Regions from separate parts of the Homo sapiens genome. Here all the other regions are linked to region 1. Evidence: fine-mapped expression QTL. A gene starts in region 1. Each other region holds a variant in brackets. All regions are shown on one strand. Distances are between the middles of the regions.

Region 1 (2,500 bases):
TTTGTAAGCCTAAAAAGTAGGTGGTTTGAGGATCTAGATTTAGGGAATTAAATTTTGGCTGCAACTGAAGTACATATGTCAGGTCATCTGCCTGGCAGAGGTCATGTTAAACTCCCCTGGGCTACTCACAATGCCCTTTTAAATATTTCAGATAATAACTGAGAACATTCTCTTCACCGATGAGCCTGGTTGAATTTCAGTACTTAGATTCTTACCCGTAAGTGTAGGGATTCAGATCTGTGCCCCAAATTTAATGTGGAAAATACACTCACTACCCTATGCTAAAGGAGGAGCACCGCACTGGAACTCGGAGTTTCAGACTAAAGCAAAGGAGATTCCAAGCCTCCATTCTGTGCCTAGGTGGACCCGAGTGGGCAGGCGCAGGGGGTCTGGGGCCCGGGGTTTTTCCGCTCCCTGCTGCCCCCCTGCGGCGGGTGGGCAGGTAGCGGCCCGCGGGAAGGAACCCAAACCCGGAGGGCGAGTCACGCTACCAGCGCTTCACCTTCCCAAGGGCGTCTGTCCCCACCACCCCGGGAAAGGGTCGGCGGGCCCAAGCCGCCGTGGGCGGGGGCAGAGGGCAAAGGGATTTCGCGGCAGCGAAATGAACTCGGAAAGCAGACGCGGACAAACCGCCGCCGGGAGGGAAAAACACCCGCGAGCCGGCTGCAGCGGGGAAGGGGAGACGGGGGCGAGTTACCCGGAGGAACTTCATGGCCACGAGGCGGAATCCCTTCTGCTCGAAGCGCTTGATGATCTCGCCCACCAGGCCGCGCTGCACGCCGTCCGGCTTGATGGCGATGAAGGTGCGCTCCAGGTTGGCCATGGTCCTGCGGGGCGAGAGGTGCGGTCAGGGCCCGGGCGCAGGCTCTGGCGGGGCCCGCGGAGGCCACGTGGGCGCCGCCGGTCCCTCCTCCCCCACCACGCGCGGCCGCGGGGACACGTGGCTTCCCGGCCGCTTCCGCCCCGCGCAGGGCCGGCGTCCCTCTGCGGAGCCCGAAGGCCCGCGGGGCGCAAGCTGCAAGGGAATCTCCCGCTCCGACGCCGCGCGGGACCTGCGGGAAATCGGGGGGCGCCCACAGACCGGGCCCACCTGCGGCAGCGCAAGCGGAAGAGGGAACGGGAGGAGTCGCCAGGGGATGCGCCCCCACCGCCTTACCGGGAAGCTGGAGGGGCCGGGCGGCGGCGCTGCGCTGGGAGAGCAGAGAGCTGGTGCGACCACCACACCCGGGAGCCGGCGGCGGAGGAGGGGCGCAGGGCGGAGCGCGGGGTGGCCACACCCCGGAGGGCCCAGCCGCCCAACCCGCAGGAACGCCCCACCCGCCCGGCCCGACGCGGCCGGAGAACAGTGTCCACGCCCAGCCGGGGCGCGCCCTCGCCAGGCAGAGATCGAGACGGATCCAGAGACAGGAAGTGATTCCTTCTCCACCTGGACGTCCTATGAGTTCAACTACGCACGTCCCAAATCCCACTCCTCACCTCTCAGTACTTCCCGTGACCCCAAAAGCTCCTACACACACACACACACACACACACACACAGAACCTGCTCCTGTGCTCGAGTTCTCTACCCCGGTCAAGGCCATCTGCTGCTTTCACCATCCGCCCGAGCACCGGCATTAACCTTGACTTGGCTCTCCCTCCCCGTCGTGCACCCACGGTCCTTATCCTCCCTACCTCTGAAATCCAGCCTTCCCTCCCCTCTGCTTGAGCCCTGGTTAAGCCTCGGCCTCCCAAGGGGCCTCGATCTCACCTCTCCGCGCAAACCGGGAGCTTTGCTCAGCACCTCAAACGGCCATCTGGTCCTGCCTCTGCCCTGCCTTGATGACTCCCCCGCCTACAGGATGGCGTTCAGACTCCTTAGCGGGATGCTCTTCTCGCAGGATGCCCTGCTCCCTGGCTGCCGCCTCCCCACCTACATTTCCAGCCCCAATCAGCCGCCCCACTCCCACCCTGACATGGGGATCCCTGCCCACCTGGCACTAAAGTGCGGTCGAGTTTTCCAGTTCACCCTGAGGTGCGCCCCTGGACCCTGAGGAAAGTCTAGACCCTGTCATAGAGATTAGGCCTGTCATCGACCTGTAGACACTTCCTACTTGCAGTGTCCCTGGCAAACAAGCTCCCTTTGGTGATGCCCAGCTTCCCTGGGGCGGTCACAAGCCCCTCCTCTCGGCGCCTGCAGCACTGACTGACAGCCGCACAGCAGTGGTACTGCCCTGAGATGGTGAGAGCCCGCTTGCTTCCCCTCAGGACTCTGAGCTGACCACAGCAATCATGCCATCACCCGAGTGCCCCTAGCACTGCGCTGATCACCTGTCACTGGCCAGATGGATGACAATCTGGCCTCTGTTATACCTTATCGGCTTTCCAAACTTCTAGTTACAGAGCATTAGCCCACCACACATTGACAATGACTGTCATGTGCCCTCATCTGGGGGCACTGTTATTTTTTGGCTTCGATCTGAAACACACTCTCATTTGGATTACCAAATGTCAACTGTGAA
Region 2 (2,500 bases), 990 kb after region 1:
TTGGGCAAAGACAGAACCTGCAGTGAGGGGCTAGTTGTGTGGATGTGGGAGCCAGGGCCTCCCAGCAGAGGAAAAGGAGAAGGAGGCTGGAGTGGTGATGCCAGCCCTTGTCTGTGTTCTCTCGGAGTTGCCACTAGGGGAGGGCCTTGCCAGCTATCCCTCTTTTAGCCGGGCCCCTCTCGGGCTGAGTCCCTGGCCTGTCCTCACGTGGGAGTGGGAGTATATGAGCCTGGACATGGCCAGATGGCAGTGATCGGGGCAGAATCGGCCCCATTTGGTTGTGTCCACCTGGGAAAAACAAGCTCAGGCCTTCTCATGGCCAGCTGAGCTCTTCTGAGCTCGTGTGGGGTCAAGCTGTGCTAGCACCACTCAGTCCAACAAGGGTCCCAGGCTGTGCTGTGTCCTCTGCACCCCTGCCCATCTCTGGAGGAGCTCAGCAAGGCGGGGGGTAGTCCTTGAGCCTAGGGCATTCCGGGACCCGCATTCCAACCTCCCTCTTTCCATATCTTTTTTTTTTTTTTTTTTTTTTTGAGACAGAGTTTTGCTCTGTCACCCAGGCTGGAATGCAGTGGTGTGATCTCGGCTCACTGCAACTCCACCTCCTGGGTTCAAGTGATTCTCCTGCCTCAGCCTCCCGAGTAGCAGGGATTACAGGTACGTGCCACCATGCCTGGCTAATTTTTGTATTTTTAGTAGAGATGGGGTTTCACTATGTTGGCCAGGCTGGTCTCGAACTACTGACCTCAAGTGATCTGCCTGTTTTGGCCTCCCAAAGTGCTGGGATTACAGGTGTAAGCCACCACGCCCGGCCTCGCTCTCCATATCTAGATTGGCTTCTCTCCAAACACAACAGACAGAGGGACTCTCCTTCCAGGGAATCTTGAGGTGCCAAAGAAATCTACAGGTAAGGGTCTGGATTTCCTGCTTCCAGAACCCCTCAACCCTGTAGAAGGCAGGGTGGAGGCAGAAGTGCCAGGGTCAAATTCAAGCTTTGCCACTTGCTTGTTCTGTAGCCTTGGGTAAGTCACTGACTCTCCCTTGGTCTCTGTTTCCTTGTCTGTGAAATGGGGATAGTGATCCAGGCATACCTCACTACCAGGTTCGTGGGAGGGCTACAGATAGCAGGTCCTTCCCTCTTTCTTCCAGAGAATTTGAGAAAACAGCAAAATGCCAAGAGTCCAAAGGGCAGGCCGGCAGGCACTGGCTGCCTATGGGGCCTCCCAGAAAGCACAAAGGGAAACAGAGCCAGTGAGGACGGGAGAGGCTGCCAGCAGCAATTGGTGAGCAGAGCAGCAGATATTTATTCTGAATGTCCTTACTCCACACACTCTCACCCCACCCCACCCCCTCTCCCTGCTTGTTTAGAGCCTGGGTTCCAGGAGGGCCAGGA[G/A]CTGGAATCAGCAGGTGGGATGTGCCACTCGTGGTGTGGACAGAGAAGGGAGGATGAAGTCAGGGCTGGACCTGGAACCACTGTGGGAAGAGAGAGTGGAGGGCTGAGAGGGCCAGATGCTGGTTCTCCTGACTTCCCCACCCTGACACTCCAACTGCGAGTGCTTGGCATTGGGGTCATAGCCCTGGCACTGGTGAGGACCCCCAGCAGCGGCCTCAGAGGGGCAGACAAGTCTATGTGCCTCTTCCCCTGACCTCTCCCAGACCCCACCATTTGCCCCAGCCTTGTGATAAAGGCCATCTTGTTCCCAGAAATAAGGCTGGCATCACCCACCAGACCTACCTGGCTAGGCTGTCAGTGCTGGTCCAGAATGAGGGGCACCTGGGCGCTGTCCACGCGGGGAGGCAGCCGCTCACCTGTGTGCACATTGAACATGGGCAGGGTGGAGAGTGGCCGGGGCACCTCGCGGCTGGCCGCCATCTGCCGCAGCTCCTCTGTGTTCCCGTGGATGGTGCAGTGGTGGACCATCTGGATGCTGGAGGCACAGGTGGGGAGTCATCAGCTCTGGGAGTCAGCTGCCCTGGAGTACAGCCTGGAACTGCCTCTGAGCCACCCTGCGGTCCTCCCCACCACTTATGTGGGGAGAGACTCAGACACATGATGCAGGGGCAGAAAACAAACAGAAAGCTCTATGGGGCCGGGCGTGGTGGCTCATGCCTATAATCCCAGCACTTTGGGAGGCCAAGGCAGGCAGATCACTTGAGGTCAGGAGTTCGAGACCAGCCTGGCCAACACGGTGAAACCCTGTTTCTACAAAAAATAAAAATAAAAATTAGCCAGGTGTGGTGGTGGGCACCTGTAATCCCAGCTACTCAGGAGGCTGAGGCAGGAGATTCACTTGAACCTGGGAGGCGGAGGTTGCAGTGAGCTGAGATCGCAAGAGACTCCATCTCAAAGTAAAAAAAAGAAGAAAAAAAACAAAAAAAAGAAAGCTCTATGGTGCCTGCTCAGTGCCCAGTGGTCAAGACATAGGCTGTGGGTGTAGACAGCCTGGGTTCAAGGCTGTGTGTCTTGGGCAAGTTGCTTAACCACTCCATGCCTTAGTTTGCT
Region 3 (2,500 bases), 890 kb after region 1:
GCCAGGTCAAATCCCACCACAGGCTGGGATTACTTACCCCTAGAAGGGGACAAAAGAGCCTTCTCTCCCCTAGGGAACAAGCAGAGACACAGTCCCAAAGAGGGTGGGGACATCCCAGGGTCCCCCAGCACTGGAGGAACTGAGCTGGGGCTAAGTGCTGGCCCAGGTGTCCAAAGCTCAGGCGGGAAGGAGCTGGAAGGATAAGCTGAGGCTAATAAGGGGTCCAAAGTCCCTATTCACAGAGACGTGCTAGGTGTCAGATAAGGTGGTGGGTGGTGGCCACTTCCCACCACAGGATCCCCCTCAGAGGTGGGAGAACCCAGCCTCTCCCAGAGCCTCCTCCGCTGCCCCCACCTCCACCTCCACAGCAAAGAGAGAAAGGAAGTAGCTAACTGTGTGTGGTCAGGAGGAAATCCTGATTCTGGAAGGTGGCGACCAGGCTCCAGAAGCAGGCTCCTGACCTACAAGGGTAGGGCCCAAAAGTTCAACAACCTTACCTCCCAGTCTCACCTTTTGGGGGCCAGCCAGCAGGCTGAACAGCAAGGTGGGCGCGAGGCCGGGGACCCAAGCTTGGGACATCCTGGCTTGGGGGCCACTGAGCTTTCCTGTGTAGAGAAGGCGGGGCTGCGACCTCTCCCACTTCTCTCCACCTATGGGGCCCCGCCTCGGGATGGGGGCGGAGCTGCACCGGGAGAGGCGGACTCGGGGCAGGGAGGGGCTGGGAGGAGGAAGGGAGGAAGGGAGGCGCAGAGGTCTGGGTTGGGTTTTGGGATTTGGGAGGTAGAAGAGATTAACGGATTTTTAAAAAAGCGGTCCCGGGCGCGGTGGCTCACGCCTGTAATACCAGCACTTTGGGAGGATCACTTCAGGTCAGGAGTTCGAGACCAGCTTGGCCTACATGGTGAGACCCCCCGTCTCCACTAGAAATACAAAATTTAGCCGGGCGTGGTGGCGGGTGCCTGTAATCCCAACTACTCAGGAGCCTGAGGCAGGAGAATCGCTTGAACCCGGGAAGCAGAGGTTGCAGTGAGCCGAGATCGTGCCAGTGCACTCCAGCCTGGGCGACGGAGTGAGACTCCATCTCTAAATAAATAAATAAATAAATAAATAACCTAAATTTAAAAAGAGGTGGGATCAACTCCACACCGCTGAGCTGGGCCTTCCTAACTCCCAACTCCTCCACTCCTAAGTGCCCCAGACTCCAGGGAGGGGTGCCGGGACCGGCGGGAGTGGGAAGGGGACGTGGAAGCCCCTTCTTATCTGGACCTCTGGGTCTGGTGAGAAGTCAAATGGGGGCAGAGGTTGAGGGAGGGGAAGGCGAAGGTTCTAGGGTAGATTTTGAGGGGTTATGGTTGGGGGATATCACCCCATTGTGTTTTGACCAAAAAGGGAGGGACAGAGCAGCCTGGCTGATTTCAGAGTG[C/A]CCTGAGATTTCCAGGTCGAGGAAGGAAGACCAGGAGCACAACGTGGGTACCTTCGTGTCCCCTCCCCTCTTGAAATCCTACAGGAGGTGTTGGTGCATTTTCTCCCATTGACAAAACGGGAACTCAAGGCCCCAGGGTTTAGACTGCCCCGGGGTCCGCAGCTGGGGCTGGTCCTCTGCCAGGCCCGCCGGGGCGCGGGCGAGCAGGCCCATCCAGATTCCTGGAAAGACCCCGCGGAGGCCGCCCCAGTGCGGAGGGGCCTGATTCTGAGCCCCCTGCGGCCGCCGCCTCCAGCACTCCAGGCGCGGAGCTTCCGGGAGCGGCCGGCAGGTGGCAGCGTCGCCCAGCGCGGGTGCCCCCGGGAGCCGGGAGGGGCGCGGCCGGGGCTTGTGGGCTGGGGGCGCTGGGCGAGGGCGAGGCAGGAGCAGTGCAGCCAGGACCGCGGGAGGGGGAGAGGGGGTGATGGAGCGTGGGGCGCTGCTCCCTGGCCCGGCCAAGGGGGACCCTGAGAGGCTCAACGTCATGTCCTTGGGCGCCTCCTGCTGTGTCGCCAATCTGTCTTGACCCCTGAAAAACACCCCCGACGTCGTGGGCGTTTCTTCTCTTTCCTTGCTCTCTGCCTCTCACCCTTCTCCCTCATCTCTCCCAGTCATGTTCTCTGTCTTATATTTAACCCCTCTGTGTCTCTCCCCGTTTCTCCCAGCCTCTGTTTTTCTGTTTCGGTTTCTTCCCATCTGTCCGCACCCAGTTTCTCTCGAGTTCCCAGCCTTTCCCTCTGTTCTCCCGTCTGTTTCTCCTCTCTCTGTTCACCTCTGTCTGCCTCGGCGGAGGCGTCTGTTTTTCTCGGTTTCTCTGGTCCCTTCTCCTTGTCCCTGGTTTGGTCCTGCACCCCCAGTCTCTCGGTCTGTTTCTTATGCTGTCTCCCTGCTCTCTCTCTCCCTTTCCCTGTCTCTATTTCCCATTACCTCCTAGCCCTTTTTGCCCCTTAAGAAGATAATCTTCTAGTCTCCTGATCCGAGGGGTATTGGGATCTGGCCCCTCTGTATTTGAAGTGACTGTGAGCTTGGAGAAGGGAA

Evidence for each region. PIP is the estimated chance that this variant, and not a neighbour inherited with it, causes the effect.
Region 2: its variant is fine-mapped to the expression of NME2 in spinal cord (GTEx, PIP 0.98).
Region 3: its variant is fine-mapped to the expression of NME2 in minor salivary gland (GTEx, PIP 0.97).

The regions. Positions count from the first base shown.
Region 1 is chr17:51,165,154-51,167,653 of GRCh38, reverse strand. NME2 (NME/NM23 nucleoside diphosphate kinase 2) reads right to left here and starts at 1,243. Exons shown (of 5, transcript NM_002512.4): 1 at 1,157-1,243; 2 at 698-827. The coding sequence starts at 823. It overlaps NME1-NME2 (NME1-NME2 readthrough), which reads right to left. Exons shown (of 9, transcript NR_037149.2): 6 at 698-827. RefSeq lists silencers at 313-512, 773-1,402 and an enhancer at 682-1,290.
Region 2 is chr17:50,174,682-50,177,181 of GRCh38, reverse strand. SGCA (sarcoglycan alpha) reads right to left here. Exons shown (of 10, transcript NM_000023.4): 9 at 1,733-1,925; 10 at 1,254-1,470. The coding sequence ends at 1,745. Among named protein-coding and RNA genes, the nearest start is that of SGCA, 9.9 kb to the right of the region's middle. RefSeq lists enhancers at 1,140-1,434, 1,728-2,329. The variant G/A (reference allele first, on the strand shown) is at 1,391.
Region 3 is chr17:50,272,581-50,275,080 of GRCh38, reverse strand. It overlaps TMEM92 (transmembrane protein 92), which reads right to left and starts at 615. Exons shown (of 5, transcript NM_153229.3): 1 at 511-615. The coding sequence starts at 579. RefSeq lists silencers at 239-533, 1,671-2,010. The variant C/A (reference allele first, on the strand shown) is at 1,424.